Regions from separate parts of the Homo sapiens genome. Here region 2 is linked to region 1. Evidence: fine-mapped expression QTL. A gene starts in region 1. The other region holds a variant in brackets. All regions are shown on one strand. Distances are from middle to middle.

What was found. PIP is the estimated chance that this variant, and not a neighbour inherited with it, causes the effect.
Region 2: its variant is the best candidate, but not a certain one, in a credible set for the expression of PGM2 in whole blood (TOPMed, PIP 0.86).

Annotation. Positions count from the first base shown.
Region 1 is chr4:37,823,684-37,829,066 of GRCh38, forward strand. It overlaps PGM2 (phosphoglucomutase 2), which reads left to right and starts at 3,003. Exons shown (of 14, transcript NM_018290.4): 1 at 3,003-3,130. The coding sequence starts at 3,050. RefSeq lists enhancers at 1,472-1,641, 2,674-3,175, 3,176-3,675 and a silencer at 2,886-3,185.
Region 2 is chr4:37,880,471-37,885,853 of GRCh38, forward strand. No RefSeq gene overlaps it. Among named protein-coding and RNA genes, the nearest start is that of TBC1D1, 7.9 kb to the right of the region's middle. RefSeq lists an enhancer at 818-1,318. The variant A/T (reference allele first, on the strand shown) is at 2,915.

The DNA of each region.
Region 1 (5,383 bases):
TCTGCCTGGGTCTGTGATTCTCCATGTCCTGCAATTTTTTCCAGAGCATGACTGAGAAGAAGGTTTATCTGGTGCAGAGAAAAGAGATAGCCTGAGTGTGGTGGACCTGCAGACCACCTAACATTTGGGGAAACTGAGGCAGACTGTCCTTCTCTTCTTCTCTGTGCTCCAGCCTCTCAGGTTTTGCAGTCAGGGGAAGGACCACACTCTCACATTAACTACATCCTTCCCTCACATCTCTCTTAAGCTTCCAGTGCTCAGGCAAGCTTCCTGACTGAGGTGGCCTCTGTTAACCTGCAGCCTCATGACATCTCTCTGCTTTCCTTCCAGCATTTTATCAGTTTGTAATTACGTATTAACTGCCGTGATTACATGATTAGTATGCCTTTCCCATGACACTAAACAGATATTACAGATCCTGGATATATATTTTTTCTTTTTAAAATTGAAGAACACACTAGCCGGGCGCGGTGGCTCATCCCTGTAATCCCAACACTTTGGGAGGCTGAAGTGGGCAGATCACTTGAGGTCAGGAGTTCATGACCAGCCTGGCCAACATGGCGAAATCCGTTCTCTACTAAAAATACAAAAAAAAAAAAAAAAAGTCTGGGCCTGGTGGCTCACACATATAATCCCAGCTACTCAGGAGGCTGAGGCAGGATAATCACTTGAACCCAGGAGATGGAGGTTGCAGTGAGCTGAGATCCCACCATTGCACTCCAGCCTGGGTGACAGAGCAAGACTGTGTCTCAAATAAATAAATAAATAAATAAGCCGGGCATGGTGGCACGCCCCTGTAATCCCAGCTACTCAGGAGGCTGAGGCATGAGAATCTCTTGAACCCAGGAGGCAGAGGTTACAGTGAGCCGAGATCACACCACTGCACTCCAGCCTGGGTGACAGAGCGACACTGTGTCTCAAAAAATAATAATAAAATAAAGTTGAAGAACATACGGAAAATGCACAACTCATAAGATTGCAGCTTAGTGAATATTACAAAGTCAACACACCTGTTGACCATCGTCCAGGTCAAGAAACAGAACAGTCCCGGAACCCCAGAAGGCACTTTCCCTCCTTCCCAAAGCTACCACTCTGCTGACATCCATAGGTTAGTTTTGCCTCCTTTTTAGTTTTTAATCTTAAAACTTAAAAAAAAGAGATATAACTTACATACAGTGAATTTTACCCTTTATATCGTACAGTTCTATAAGTTTTGATAAAAGTAAACCCCAAACTCAATCAAGATACGGAACAGTTCCACAACTCCCTCAAATTCCCTTGTGCCCTAGGTAGTCAACCCCTCCCCCAACCCCCAGCTCTTGAAAATCACTGATTTGTTTCCTTTACCTATAATTTTATATATTTCAGTGTTTTTTTTTTTTTTTTTTTCAGGGTCTCCCTCTGTCTCCCAGGCTGGAGAACAGTGGCACAATCAGGGCTCACTGCAGCCTCGACCTCCCAGGCTCAAGCGATCCTCCCTCCTCAGGACTCCCTCCAGCTCCCCCACCACGAAATAGCTGGGACTACAGATGAATGATGCAGTATTTTGGGGTGACGGGGTATGGGGGTGGGTGTTTGAACTCTGTCACTCAGTGTTTGTGAGATTCATTCATGATGTTGTGTATAACAGTAGTTCACCTGCATTGCTCTATCAATGTGCCATGATTTATTTATATGAATTGGTATGGATATACTACCAAGTATTTATCCATTGTATTGTCGATGGTCATCTGGGTTGTTTCCAGTTTGAGGCTTTTACAAATAATGCTGCTAGAAATATTCTTGCCCGTGCTTTTTTATGCTTATGGGTATGCATCTTCTTTATGGCTTGGTGATACCAGCGTCAGGAAGATGTGCTCCTATGTTAGTTTCCCTAAGTTTCACGCTACTATGGAAAGAGACCACCATTTCTGCTGTCCTTCCCAGCTTCTCCCCCACCTCCCCTTTTCCCTAGTTTATAAGACAGGAGAAAAGAGAGAAAGCAAAAAGTTGGAAAAAAACAGAAGTAAGATAAATAGCTAGACGACCTTGGCGCCACCACCTGGCCCTGGTGGTTAAAATAATAATAATAATATTAACCCCTGACCAAAACTACTGGCGTTATCCGTAAATTCCAGACATCGTATGAGAAAGCACTGTAAAACTTCTTGTTCTGTTAGCTGATGTATGTAGCCCCCAGTCACGTTCCTCACGCTTACTTGATCTATCATGACCCTTTCACGTAGACAGACCCCTTAGCGTTGTAAGCCCTTAAAATGGCTAGGAATTTCTTTTTCAGGGAGCTCGGCTCTTAAGACGCGAGTCTGCCGACGCTCCCGGCCGAATAAAAACCTCTTCCTTCTTTAATCCGGTGTCTGAGGAGTTTTGTCTGCGGCTCCTCCTGCTACACTACCTTTCGCACTTAGAGATACAATTGATCTGGAGTTCAGAGCTGTGTGTGATGGGAGGTAGGGGGCCAAGTTCCCTTTTTTCTTTTCCCTACGTGGATATCCCTTTGACCGAGCACCATTAACCAAAAATAGTTCCTTCCTGTGCTCTGCAGCCCCGCCTCTGAAATAAATTGTCCATACACGTGTATTTTTGTTTCTGGTCTCTATCTTATGTTCCACTGGTCTTCCTACTTTGCTTTTCTTTTTCAAGATTTTTTTCTGGCTGTTCTTGACCCTCTGAGTTTCTACATAGTCTTCAGGCCCCTATCTGGGTGCACTTCCTGGTATCCCAGCATCTGACATGTGCCTGGCGCGCAGCAGGAACTCACGGCTGGCTGTAGCCTGGATGCATCAGAGACGATGGCAAACCCTTCTCACACGTGCCAGGTTCCAGCAACCCACCCTAGCCCCGCAATTCCTCCTCGCTCACTCCCACCCCCTGCAGCGCACCCGCAAACGGCAAGGAGGCGTGCCCGCCGCGGCGCGCGTCACTTTCCCCCGGACCGACTGGCTCCGCCGCGGCTCTCCCCGCCCCCGCCTCCGCCTCCACGTCTTGGGGCCGGGCCGGAAGGCAGATCTCACCGCCTGCTTCCCTCTGCAGCGGTAGCACAAGCTCAGCGATGGCGGCTCCAGAAGGCAGCGGTCTAGGCGAGGACGCCCGGCTGGACCAGGAGACCGCCCAGTGGCTGCGCTGGGACAAGGTGAGGGGCACCAGCAGGCGGGGAGCGCCTGGAGCGGGGCCGGGTGCTCTGCCCTCTCCAGGCGCGGCGCTGCTTGCTCTGCCTGAGCTGCCTTCCCGCCCAGTGCATCCCGCTTCTCCCCCGGGAAGACCCAGGAGCGTACGGCCGCTGCTAGGCTTCCTTCGACCTGGCCGGCATGCGGCACGTTCAGAGTTAGGCCGGGAAGGCTTGTCCCCGGACGAAACCAGCCATCCGGCCGGCCGGACTGCAAGTTCGGAGTAGAGGAGCGAGCCAGGGTGGTGTAAGCGCGGCCAGACCCTGGACGCTGTCTAGTTGAGGGGCGCACGCCTTACTGTCACTCAGACCGCTGGCTCGTCGTCGGTAGTCGGCTGTGCATCCCCATGGACCCAGAATCGCTCCGTCCCGCGTATTCCTTTGGCCGCTGAGACCTTTGCAGAGCAGCGTTCTGGTCCGGTCCTCCCATCCCGAGGGCTTGGTTACAAACGTGGGTTGTCCTCCCGGGTGGGCCCGCCTGGCTTCAGGAGTCCCCCTTAGAACTTTGACTGCCAGGGAGGCACACCTGGGACACAGCACGGTTTTCTCTCTCTTCATTCCGTTTCTTAGAATCAGGAACCCAGCTCTGGACATCACTCCCTCTCCTCTCTATAAACTTGCGTCTCGCCCTTTCGACCTGTTCTGCTTGCTGTTAGGTTTTCTCGGAATGTCCCTCGCTGCTCTCCTGCTGAACTTGTTTCTCCCGTTGTGACTCATATTTTGTGCCTGAACTTAAATGTGGCTTACGTAGAGAGTCAGTCCTTCCTTGGCTCCGAAGCGTTAAATTATTTATCCCTAATATTCACTCTAAACAGTCTGTTATTTTCCTTTATAGCTCTTACTACAAATGGTAAAAACAAAAAACTCCAAAAACACTTGTTTGTAGGTTTGTTTAATGTCTGTCTCCAGGGCCGACTTCAGGGGCGAGAGACCCCTGCAGTCTCACAGGACTCGCGCTCCTTGAAGGGCCCACTGTTGTTTTAATGTCCTGCTGTCCTGTCTTGAAAGTCTTACTGGTAAAACAAGAGGTCACCCACTTTCATTGTGCACTGGACCTCCATAAATTATGTGGCCAGGCCTCTCTATTCTCACTACCTTGGTTTGTAGTGCCTGGCATAGGCATAGTGCATGACACATAGTAGGTCACTGAAATACTTGAATGAACAAAGAAGATTACAAGGTCAGTAGGGGTCAGGTCTTTGTCTTTATTTACCATTCTCTGGCCCCTACAAATAAAATGTCAGCAAATCCCATTTCCAGGATGCTATTGGCAACTCCTTGGGGGCGTTTTTCTTTTCCTGGGAAGATAACCTTGTGATTCACAAGGGAAGAAAAATGTTTCCATTTCTGATAACTTGTAGCTTGCAGAGTACAGAATTCTTTTGAAGTCAGAGTTCATAATGCACTTTCTCTAAGAAGAAGAAGAAAACAATCTAATTTCTACACAGTGTTGCATCTGTGTATAGAAAAATTGTATTTCTCTGGGTAGAGATGAGATGTCCTTTTTTTTTTTTAATCACTTCTCATGTTCTATCCTCTGTTAATTTCTTCTTTGCTTTGAGACTGGCACCTGAGAAGAAGCCCATTCATTCTCCAGTGAACCTCCCACCAGCTAAAAGCATTGCAGCCCTCTAGTCAGACTACCCCCGGCGACTGGCAAGGCGCCCTGGCAGGTGCCCTCTGTCTTTCCACCGTGCCTTCATCCCTGCTCTTTTCTCTGCTGTCAGTTTTGCTCACTGCCAGGGCTGATTCTGATCCTGCTGTACTCTTGACTTGTCATTCTTACCTGTCTGTCTCCTTTGTTTCTCTCAGGCTACTTAGTCTTTCATAGATATCAAAGACCAATTAAGATTTTCCAGACCTACACTATGAACAAGGGAGGATCACTCGATATTGAGTGTGGCAGTGAAGTCCATGTTTTCTGATTCACTCCACTAATATTTATTGAGGCTCTTTTATGAGCCTCTTTTATGTACCTGATCTGAGCCTTTCTTTGGGGCACCTGACAATCTGATAGGTAAGACTGTGTTCTGTAATTAGCATCTGCTGTTTTTCACCAAAAAAGATGGGGTTTACTTGATTCCCATTGAATCTGCCACAATCTGGAAATGTGGGCTTAATTCCAGAAAGCCAAGGTTTTATTGCAGTAGTATTTCAAAGTTTAATTAAATGGCCACGTCCTGCGTGAGTGCTCATCTAAATGGATAATGACTGTAAAAC
Region 2 (5,383 bases), 57 kb after region 1:
TCAATAGAAATCATTGATTTTCATGTCACATTTCAGTTGTAACAAGTATCTCAGAATATCATATATTTTTATCACTCTCAAAATCATGGTAGTTATTATACCTGTGGGCAAATCTTGTTATTTAATACATTAATAATGATGTCCATATATTACAATATTATGCTTTTAAAAGTATATGTTGATGTCTGTATTTCCATATAATTGGTTACTTAAAGGAGAATTTTATATAATTGGCTATATAATTGGTTACTTAAAGGAGAACTTCTCTTAAAGGAGAATGTCATCCTACATTTTATATTTAGCAACAAAAGAATGAGAAGAAGGCTGAATGTCTGTACCCAGCCTTCCATATAATTTGTAGCCAATTACATGGAAATACAGATATCAACATATATTTTTAAAAGCATGATATCATAACATATGAACTTCATTATTAATGTATTTTATTTATTTTATTTTAGGCATTTACAAATATTATTCTGAGGAAGGTTCCATAGGCTTCATTACACAGGCAAAGGGATCTATACTATAAAAATAGTTAAAAACCTTTGCCCTAGAGCAGGGTTAGCAAATTATGTCCTGCTCGCCAAATCCGGCTACTTGTTTTTGTATGACCCATGAGCTAAGAATGGATTTTACATTTTTAAATGGTTGGAAAAATTTTTTTAAAGAATATTTCGTGACAATGTGAAAATGCATGAAATCCAAATTTCAGCGTCCATACTCACTAGAACACAGCCATACTCATTTGTCTGCATAGCGTTTGTGGCTGCTTTTGCACTGCAACAGACTTTTTTTTTTTTTTTTTTTCTTGAGACGGAGTCTCACCCTGTCGCCCAGGCTGGAGTGCAGTGGCGCAATCTCGGCTCACTGCAACCTCTGCCTCCCGGATTCAAGCAATTCTTCTGCCTCAGCCTCTTGAGTAGCTGGGACTACAGGCATGCGCCACCATGCCCGGCTAATTTTTGTATTTTTAGTAGACACGGGGTTTCGCCATATTGGCCAGGCTGGTCTCAAACTCCTGACCTCGTGATCCGCCCACCGTGGCCTCCCAAAGTGCTGGGATTACAGGTGTGAGCCACTGTTCCCGGCCACTGCTACAGATTTGAAAGGTGGGACAGAGATGGAATGTCCTGCAATGCCTAAAATATTTACTAAATGGGCTTTTAGTAGTTTGTCAACCCTGAATTAGAAGAGAGTAAGGATGCTGAAGACAAGGAAGCTGTCTCATATTTCTTTGCATCACTTCAGTGCCTAGTTCAGAGCCATGGAAAGAATAGCTCATCTATGCATCTCTACTGGTTGAAAGACTACTAACCCCTTTGCGGTAACTACCTGCCACTTTGGAAATCTTGGTAAATTCTACCTCCCCCTTAATGATTTCTCTAAGCTTCCTATCCAAGGACCCACACTCTTTTGAGTAAAGGAGAACTTCATCCTACATTTCATATTTACCAACAAGAAAATGAGAAGGCTGAATGTCTCTAGCTCAGCTTTAATGTTAAAAGAAATTACAAAGTAATGAAGCAACCTCCCACTATAATGCTGTGGCACAATATGAATTATTATGCAATAGAAAAGTGAGCAAAAAGAGACTGCCCCGGAGCACGTTTCTTCAATGTGTGCTGATCAAGGAAACCTTGGTTCTGTGGATGCTCCCGAGAAGTTAAAGGGTCAGAGAGCCCCAGCTGAAGCGCAGCCCAACCAGGAACACCTCGCAATAAGGAATGTTATTCTGAAAGCCAAGGAAATAACCAGACTCTCATTTCCCCCACACAAATCAAAACACCTCCAAACATGATCACCCTCAAAAACATTAGTTTGAAAGGCAGTAATATGGTATAGACAAAAAGAATTAGGCTTGCTGACAGAATATCCAGGTTAAAACCCCAATTTCTCCCCCACAGGTTTTCTGCCTTAGGACAACTCCAACTCTCTATAATGAGGGAGAGAAATAACGTTTACCTCTGAGGGCTGCTGAGAGGGTTAAATAATATGAGATCTGTAAATTACAACACACTGTACACACTATACAGGTAGCATACAAGGTGGTAATGAGTGAGAACATTTGATGTAGTGTGGAGCTGCAGGCGAGTTGGTATGTTCTCTGCCTGTACAAGTCTGTTTATTCATTCATTCATTCACTCACTCACTCATATTTCTACCACATCCCAGGAATGATTGAAGATGGCTTAAATGTATTCACTTTTTTTGTAAACAAAAAATGATTCAAAGTGAATTAAGAAAACAGGACGAAAGGAGAGGGTAGTAGGTGAGATAGAATGATGCTAGGAATTAGGTAGAAACCACTGCTCCTAGACTTTGGATTTTCTGAACCAGTAACATTTCTCCAAACACTAGGAATTGACAAGGGGGCGCTATAATGTTCTTTTGCCAAGTAAAGACATTATAAAACAAGCACAAAGCAATGGATCTCACCATATGGTTCTCACCGTAATTTCATAAAAGAAATACTTATTTGTTAGTACCTATAAGGTAGGAAGAACATGATCTCAGAAGACAGAGAAGTTCAGTTTGCTTTTATGAAGTTACACATTGTTATTTATAGTTTGTCTTGGATAGATGAAAAGTGGCACAAACTGGCAATGGCTTGGAAAGGGCATTTGTGAATCACTGACTTAGCACACAAAATGTCCTGGATGCCTGCCAAGCAGTGAACCCCAAACGGTCAGTGCAAGGATGGAGATAAAATCAGTTGCTCAAGGAAAGAAAAGTTTTTCTTAGTGGAGTCCTAGGAGAAACTTTTTCTTGGATTCTCTTTAAAAGGACACTGTGTAAGGTATTAATAAACACCCTCAATAATATCTTCAGACTGAATAGAGTATTTTTATAAAATGCATTCCCCCACTATGGACCAATGGAATAATATCAAAGTGAAACTCAGTAAAAAAAA[A/T]TTTTCTGGATACACTCCAGGCAAATGGATCTTCACTTGGGTTGATCTGATAAGGAACTGATTTTAGGGGATCCAGATTTTAGAGGACCAGTTGAACTGCATTATCTTTCATGCTGGTCTCCAAGGTCATATTTTTCTCAACCAAACTTCTAACAAACTTTGACTGCTGATGAGTTCTCAGTTGTTCCTGATTCTAAAGTCCTTCTATAGTATATCTGAAATTAGAGTCTATGTTGATGGTTAAAGAAGGAGTCACATGCTTCAACATTTAGCTCACCTTGGGGGGAACTATTGACATACCTCTTAGGACAGTTGAGAAATCTAATGAGCTGTCAACAAGAGGAAAACCTAGAAATTCTAATCTAATGGATAGTACTTCTATAGATAGTACTTCTAATCTAATAGATAGTATTTCTATTAGATTGGAATTTCTAGGCAAGAGGAAAACATAGAAATTCTAATCTAATAGATAGTACTTCTATTAGATTCTATTCTAATCTAATAGATAGTACTTCTATTAGATTCTATTCTAATCTAATAGATAGTACTTCTATTAGATTCTATTCTAATCTAATAGATAGTACTTCTATTAGATTCTATTCTAATCTAATAGATAGTACTTCTATTAGATTCTATTCTAATCTAATAGATAGTACTTCTATTAGATTCTATTCTAATCTAATAGATAGTACTTCTATTAGATTCTATTCTAATCTAATAGATAGTACTTCTATTAGATTCTATTCTAATCTAATAGATAGTACTTCTATTAGATTCTATTCTAATCTAATAGATAGTACTTCTATTAGATTCTATTCTAATCTAATAGATAGTACTTCTATTAGATTCTATTCTAATCTAATAGATAGTACTTCTATAGATAGTACTTCTAATCTAATAGATAGTATTTCTATTAGATTGGAATTTCTAGGCAAGAGGAAAACATAGAAATTCTAATCTAATAGATAGCGCTTCTATTAGATTCTATTCTAATCTAATAGTACTTCTATTAGATTCTATTCTAATCTAATAGATAGTACTTCTATAGATAGTACTTCTAATCTAATAGTATTTCTATTAGATTAGAATTTCTAAGCAAGAGGAAAACCTAGAAATTCTAATCTAATAGATAGTACTTCTATTAGATTAGAATTTCTAGGTTTTCCTCTCTTTCTATATAAAGACATGTATTGAACTCAAAAATGTTATATATTACAAATTATTTTTTTCATTCATTCATTCACTCAGCACATATTCATTGGATGCCTACTATGTGTTGGGCTCCATGCTGTGAGTTGAAGATACAGCAGCAAATAAAACAGACAAAATTCTCTGCTCCCATGGAAGGCGGAGGGGGAAACAAATGACAAATAAGATATACAAGTAACCAATATAGTACATTAGAAGGTAAATGCTATGGAGAAATATAAAGCAGGAAAAGGGATAAGGTGTGTGTGTGTGTGTGTGTGTGTGTGTGTGTGTGTGTGTAGGCGTAGCTGTGGTTTCCATTTTCAAAAACTTGGTCAGCAAGGCCTCATGGAGAAGGTGACATTTAAACAAAGTGAAGTAAGTGAGGGGCCAATGTGAATATCTGAGGGAAGAGTACACTTAGCAAAGGGAAGAGTAAATGCAAAGGCCCTGGGGCAGGAGTGTGCCTGGCAGCTCTGCATAACTGCAAGGCCAGTGTGGCTGGAGCAGAGTGAGTCAAGGCTGGTAGCAGGTGATAAAGGACAGAGGTAGTGGTGTGGCAGTTGAGAAAGAAGATCCTGTAGGACCCTCTAAACCATTATAAGGACTTTGACTTTTACTCCAGGGAATCTGGAAAGCCATGGGAGGATTCCAAGCCAAGCAGTGACATGGCCCAAATGATATTTTAGCAGATTCAAGTGGCTGCTATGTTAAGAATAGACTGCAGGGTGGTGAGGGCCGAATCAGGGAAACCAGTTAGCAGCTCCTGCATTCTAGGTGAGATTACACATTAGGTACCACCAATGGCATTTGGGGTAAAATGAAGTGGGGTTGCTGCAGGGTAGAGAGCTTAGTCAGCTTACCCAGTCTGAGTAAAATCATCGACATCCATAACTAGCTCTGACAATTTACAAAAAAATTCTCATTGACCTTAGACAAATTTAGATATCATAATTTAAAAATGACGTGCCATCTAACATTTGCCAAACTTTGTACTTGGTGCCCAGACCCACGGAACCAGCTCGGGTGGAAAGTGAGAACCCCAAGTAAAGGCTGGACATCGTCAGAGAGCTGCGTGGAGCAGTTGCTTGTGTAGAGCAATGACAAATAGGAGAGGTTGCTGGAAAAGGAAGTGGAACCAGTGCCCAGAGTTTTATCTGCTTTGTCCATAAAAGGAGATTAGATACTTCACAGAAGCCTACTCTGGGGCTTAAGTATACAGTCCACCCATTCTCTCACTGCATTGATTTACCGTTGTCTCTTGCATTGTAAGCGTGAGTT